Homo sapiens: one gene and its partner. The protein of the gene in region 1 purifies or fractionates together with the protein of each later gene. This does not show direct contact. Each region holds a gene or a part of one and is shown on either strand. Other genes may lie near its edges.

What was found.
Region 2: the proteins of TMEM117 (region 1) and TSPAN14 fractionate together in Homo sapiens (co-fractionation; one large-scale study listed by BioGRID). This does not show direct contact.

What each region holds. Positions count from the first base shown.
Region 1 is NC_000012.12:43,839,081-43,842,580, forward strand, and holds part of TMEM117 (transmembrane protein 117), read left to right. Parts: intron 1-3,500. UniProt on the Homo sapiens protein: Involved in endoplasmic reticulum (ER) stress-induced cell death pathway.
Region 2 is NC_000010.11:80,509,810-80,513,309, forward strand, and holds part of TSPAN14 (tetraspanin-14), read left to right. Parts: intron 1-2,334; coding exon 2,335-2,460; intron 2,461-3,500. UniProt on the Homo sapiens protein: Part of TspanC8 subgroup, composed of 6 members that interact with the transmembrane metalloprotease ADAM10.

The DNA.
Region 1 (3,500 bases):
AAATTTTATTAGTTATTTTTGAATGTGTCCAGAACCAGAGTTGTTTAAACTGCCTTAATTTCTCTCTGCTTGGTCCAAGTTGCTGCATCTTTGGCAACGGCTTCCTCAGTAGCTTCCCTGCTTCTGTTCCTTGCCCTCCTTTCTTACAAAATATTTTCAACCAGGAAACAGACAGGCCTTTCTGTCATATAAGTCAGATTGTGTCCCTCCTCTGCTTCCTGTCCCACTCAGGGTGAAAGCCCACATACGAGGGCTTCAAGGCCTGCTCATGATCAGATGCTACCTTCTGTACCTAATCTCTTTCATACTCCCCTGCACCTGCTCCCCATCCAGTCATACTGCCCTCCTTAACGATCCTTAATTTGCTCTAAATGTGCACCCAACAATGGCCTTTCCAAGTTTTGTTCCCTCTATCTGGATCACACTTTCCCTAGATAGCTGCTGTCTTCTCTCCCTTCTTTCATGCCTGTCTTCTAATGTCACCTTATAATGAGGTCTTCAACTTCCCTCACACCTGACACTCCCTGTTAACTTTTCCTTGCTTTAATTTTCTCTTTGAACTTTCTTAAATACTGTGTTTAGTTTTTATCTGTTTAATATCTGTTTCCCTCAAAGAAACTATCAGATGCATGGCAACAGGACTTTGTCTGGTAGTTACCCTAGCACATAGGCCAGTGCCTGGCAAAAAATAGGCAACTGGTAAATGTTGAACAAATGAATGAATGAATGTTATTATGGAATTAACAAATCTGTACATCATCACTTTTATATGATGATCAGCACTCTTTTGCTCTGAAACTTTTGATAATTCTCTATTTTCAGTAAAATACAGACCAACACTTTTGGATAATCTTTGTTGGACTGGCTCCAAATTATCCTTAACTCTCACAGGATAACCCCAAGCACCCAGTGTTCCAGCCACACAGAACTAGTGATACATCTCTACATCAGCCCCAGGCGGTTTCCTTTGTGCCTTTGCACAAAATAGAAGTACTGTGATTTTTTTTTTTAATATCAGATGGCTTTATTTTTCTAACTAACGTAAAGGGTAAGATTTTAGAATTTATGTCCTTGTGTGTGGAAGGCATTGCATGGAGTGTTGAAGCCAGGTGGCTTGGATTTAAATTGTGGCTCTGATATAAATTAATTTTGTTATTCTTTACAAGGTACGGAACTCTAAGTCTCTGTTGCAATATTTGTAAAATGAGGAAAATAATATTTTCTTCATTGGGTTGCTATGAAATTTAAGAGATGCTTGTAAAGCTCATCAGCATAGTATCTGGTATATAGTATGTGCTTAATAAATGTTAGCCTTAGAAATATTAATTTAACACCTCGTGCTGAAATGAGAGGGAGTTGAGGGGGGGTGCATTAGTATTGTTACTGGCCACGTCATCAATGCAGTCCTTGGACTCCACTGCTTCTCTTCGCTTTGTTTGCCTTAGCGGAAGTTGAATGGCAGGTTGCTCCACCTTCTCATCTCACCTAAACAATGAGGGAGCTTCTCTTTGTGAGTGTACCACTCAGCTCATCCAGTAGATGCCTACTGATCACCCAGTATGAGCCCAGTATTGTGCTGTGCCCTGGCAGTAAACAGCCACTTCTCTGAGGAGCTTATGATCAAGTGAGGGAGACAAACACATACATAGATAATTTCACTATAGTGAGCCAGGAGCTAAGATAAAAGCTCATTCTCATCTGTGGTTATAGAAATGAATTTTTAAAAATGGAAAGGTTTTGCAGACTATGTGCCCTGTGTAACATAGTCCATTTGAACAGCCTCAAGCCTGCATTTAAATTAACAGTAGATACACCAAATGATCATACTGATTGTAAAGATGTTTTATGTGCACTACAGAGGTGAAAACAGTTTTGGTTCTCTGGATAATATTGGGGTACCTAAGGAACTAGAAAGTAGGGCTGAGAGGACTAGGCAAACATTTGCAGCCTGTGTACGAAGTCATGAAGTGAGGATAAGCAGAGGTTTAATTCAAATTATTATGTAAGGGTTTGAAATTTGGGACCCTCTAGAAGATATCACTTCAACTTCAGAATTATGAGGCAAGAATAAATTCCAGCCAGCTTAAATGATCAATAATGGAGTCCTGTTTTGTTCTGCTAGTTGAAATTGTTAGTGGAAATAAAGAATGAGCTGTAAGCATGATGGGAAATATCTTACTGGAAGAAACACTTCCAGCTTTGTGGTATATTAGAAAGATTAAGGGCTAGGTGTAAGTCTGGATTCAAATCCTGATGTTTCCACTTGTTATATAAATTAAACAGGCAGCAACTGCTCTGAGCCTTTGTTTTCTTCCCTGTAATGTGGCAGTGATAGTAGCATTCATGGCATTACTGTGGTAATTAAATAAGATCATGTACTAGTGCAGGATTATTGCTCAATGCTATAGTTCTCTTCCCTAAATAATATAAATGCTGGAGAGAAACAGCTGTCTCAGAAATTTTTTGAATGTTCTAATTTAACTTGAGCATGTGGACATTACATAGCCCACGAAGCAAGTTTCCGAACTTAAAAACAACAAGAAAATAAGTATGTGCTAGCCTCCAAAATGCGTGTATTTAAAAAAAGAGTCAAGATTATATGTATTGGAATTGATCTGGCCGTCTGCAGGAAATGGTGATCAGGCCCTGGAGTCAGCCTCAGAGGCTCAGATCACAGCTCTTCTGAGAGGTGACTTTGGGCCAGTTACAAAGTCCATGTGAGCCTCAGTTTCCTCTCTGTAAAATGAAGTGATAGGAATGATAATAATGGTATTTCAGTAGTATTTCTAAATCCTACTGCCTTAATTCTGTGTGTTCATGGTGGGAGGGGAGGTGGTGATAGCAACCATATCAGAATTCTTCACTGGCGAAAGAAGCAACAGCAGCCTGTAATAACAGCTTCTTAAATAATACTCCTTTCTAGTTCTGATGGGCATATGGGAACTATTTCTTTTTCATGACTCACTGGTGACCAGTGATGAATTTTTTTTGTAGTGGTGGTCTGTGGACACTTCCAAAACTGTTGTGTGAAATCGAGTTCAAAACCAACCTATTCTGGCATTCTTACACATTGAATATCATGAAAACACATAAAAGTTCATTTTTTTTGTTCTTCACTACTTGCTCTGCTCTCTTTGATGTGAGAGTCACACATATAAGTTTCTGCTGCTATAGCAGGTGATGAGCCTCATACTGAAAAATATGAAAACAAAAACAAGACTCTTGAGGTAGTCACCATTCCTAGGTGGTCCAAGCTACAGCCCCTGGGGACAGATTTCAGAGTGTTCACAAAGATAACAAGGGACTTAAAATTGCTTAGAAGGCTTATGAATCCAGGGCACAGTCACTATTTGCTTGGCTGAATTCTATTGCCAATGTTTATATTGCCAATGTTTATATTGCTTTTGTAAAATAGTCATGACAAGTCCTCATTAACTAAGATTGTGGGTTGAATTGGCATTCGTCAGCCCAGAATATTGGATTGGGACTCAGGAGCCTTG
Region 2 (3,500 bases), on another chromosome or scaffold:
GCATACCGTAAGGCACAGCTTCTTCCCCCCGGCTCATGACTCACCATCTGACGCTATTCCTATCCCCTTCCTCCCCGGGACCTTTTCCCCTTCCTCCCTGGGACCTTTTCCCCTTCCTGTTTAAGAAGCCAGGGCTGCCTGGAGGAAGCTTTGTCAGATCTAGTGGAATGTGACCTCCCTGGAATATGTGCCCAGGGGTTTGTCTAAGCAGTTCCAGGCTATGGCCTTTACTCCATCTGGTCCCCATCCCTCTTATCTCTCTCATGTGTGGCTGCACCTGGACGCTTGGACCATAGCTGTCACAGCCCCCTGGGGAGGAACCCACTCCTTGGCCATGTCAGCCTGTGCAATGCAAGGCTCTTGTTTGATCTGTGTGCTGACAGAAAGCCCAGCTTCCTTAAGAACTTTTCATGTGGAACACTTTGGTTTTGAGAAGAAAATAAATCAGAAACCATTAAAAATCTATGATTCACTCTCATTATTAACCAAAACTTGTTCACCTTTATTTCATGTATTATGGGATCCAGCAAAACCCATTTATGGGACCAAAGACCCTGCCTGTATTGTTATTACTAATGTGTATTAGTCTGTGAAAGTCACCAAATCCCCGCCATGTTTTGATGCCTCTCCTTTCTTTTCTGTTCAGTGCCACCGTCCTTTTTTCATTTTCACGTAGCCTTGGCTTGCCTGGTCTCAGCATGCTAGGTTGCGGTTCATCCCTGCATTGCCTTAAAAACATAGTTTTCTGCATTGACTTCTTTTTCTTTTAAAAATAAAACTTCTGGCCGGGCGCGGTGACTCACGCCTGTAATCCCAGCACTTTGGGAGGCTGAGGCGGGTGGATCACAAGGTCAGGAGATCGAGACCATCCTGGCTAACATGGTGAAACCCCATCTCTACTAAAAATACAAAAAATTAGTGGGGTGTGGCGGTGGGCACCTGTAGTCCCAGCTACTCGGGAGGCTGAGGCAGGAGAATGGTGTGAACCCGGGAGGCGGAACTGGCAGTGAGCCGAGATCACGCCACTGCAGTCCAGCCTGGTCAACAGAGCAAGACTCCGTCTCAAAAAAAAGATAAAATAAATAAATTAAAACAAAACAAAACAAAACTTCCCAGGGGAGGGATTCAGTAAATTACAGAGCTTCCTTGGAGTGAAATTTCAGGTAATCACTAAAGCAAGTGGAACCGTGGAGGTGTGGGGGAGACAATTTTACCTGAGAAGTAAGCAAAACAAAATAACCAACCAGAAATCACTGTTGTCATTTGTTGTGATTATTGCCATAACCATGTCAGCTGTAAGGGCAAATGCAAAGAAGTTTTTTAGGGGAAAAGACACTGTCAACTTCACAATGATGCTTTCAGTGTTTGGATTTTACACACTTTTTAGTCAAATAAGGATTTTCTTTGTAGCCACACCAGATGCGAGGAAGGGGAGGGCAGAGGCCCCAGGTGTGGGGCAGAGCTTTGATTGTGTTACCTTTCACCTTCATCGGACCTCTTTTCCTCAGGAGCAGACACTTAGCAGCTGTTTTTTGTAAAGGGGTGAAAAGGGGAATTCACTTGCAAGTTTCTCAGGGAGGAAGAACACTGCACACTAGGAAGTGTTCTCTTGTGGCAAGTAGAGGACCACACCAAGGTGCCGAGGGGGCCACAAAGGAGAGGACGCCACTCTCCTGTCTGAGGAGGCTGGAAGGAGGCGTCTCCTTTGAGGAGGCTGGGAAGAAGAGCAAGCTCCCTGCTAAGGAGGGCCAGGGCTGGGTATGTTGTGCCTGGCAGTGGGGCCAGAGGGCTCCACTGAGCCAGCCATGTGGGTTGGACAGAGGAGGCACCGTGGCCCGGAGATACCTTCACTGCCATTTCCTTTTTGTTATTATTTTCTTTAACACATCAAAAGGGCAGGTCCTCTCTCTCTCTCTCTCTCTCTCTCTCTCTCTCTCTCTCTCTCTCTCTCTCTCTCTCTCTCCCCTTTTTTCTTTCTCTCCTTTTCTCTTTCTCTCTCTCTTTCCTTTCTTTCTTTCTGATTGGGGGTGGGGGTCTTGCTGTGTTGCCCAGACTTGTTTCCAACTCCTGGGCTCAAACCATCTTCCCACCTCAACCTCCCGAGTCACTGAGGTTACAGGCCTGAGCTACTACGCCTAGCTGTTTTCTTCTTAAAGGGCTGCCTGGGTTGCCAGCTTAGCATCTCTGCACATGGGAGGTAGGGGGCGGGCCTTGATTTCTCTGCATGGTAGATGCCGGCAGACTTAGCCTGGCATCACTATGAATGATGCCCTATGCTGGGCAGCCATGGCCCTGTCTTGGAGCCCCTAACAGTTCTGGCTTTTGTGGTTGCAGAACCAGTGCTGTGGCGCATATGGCCCTGAAGACTGGGACCTCAACGTCTACTTCAATTGCAGCGGTGCCAGCTACAGCCGAGAGAAGTGCGGGGTCCCCTTCTCCTGCTGCGTGCCAGATCCTGCGGTGAGTTGGCTTGTGCTGGGGCACAGGGAGCCCGCCCTTCCTGAAGCCCAGAAGCTTTCCTGACTCCTCCAGTGCTCTAGGATACTTCTCTGTCATGGAGGTCTGAGGAGCAGGTGTGCTTTCTCCACACCCTCCTCAAGGCTGCCTCAGCTCTGAAATCCGATATGTGTACATTCTAGGAACACTGCTTGCATGACCCACCCTGGCCTTGGTGTTCTGGGTGAGGCAGGAGAAAAACAGTATTATTTCTACCTGGAGGGCTGTCACTTGCAGCTGGCCAAGAGCTATGAGTGAAATAAGGCCCGCTTATCCCTCTTCCCTGTCCTTTTTCTGGAGCAGATTCCTAGAACTCAACAGTGCACGGGGGCTGTGGGTACACATCATTAACTGGGGAACAGTAGTGGAGAATTATTTTCTTTCTTTTTCTCTTTCTTTTATTTTTGAGACAGGGTCTTGCTGTGTCGCCCAGGCTGGAGTGTAGTGGCATGATCTTGGCTCACTGGAACCTCTGTCTCCTGGGTTCAAGCGATTCTCCTGCCTCAGCCTCCTGAGTAGCTGGGATTACAGGTGCACGCCACCACACCCGGCTAATTATTTTCTGTTTGTTGTTGTTGTTGTTGTTGTTGTTGTTTGGTTTTATTTTAGAGACAGTGTCTCACTCTGTCACTCAGGCTGGAGTGCAGTGGTGCGATCTCAGCTCACTGTACAACCATTGCTTCCCCGGGCTCAAGCAATTCTCCAGCCTCAACCTCCCAAGTAGCTGGGACCACAGGCTTGAGCACCACACCTGGCTAATTTTTGTATTTTTTGTAGAGATGGGGTTTCACCATGTTGCCCCGGCTGGTCTTAAACTCCTGGGCTCAAAGCGATCTGCCCATCTTAGCCTCCCAAAGTGCTGGGATTACAGGTGTGGGCCGCTGTGCCTGTCCTGTCCTTTCTTTACCTATTGGCATTCCCAATCCAAGGCCAACGTCCTTGGGTTCCAGAAGCTGGGTTCTTGGGGTGAACTGTGAAGGAGCTCTGAATTTTGCCTGAACTGA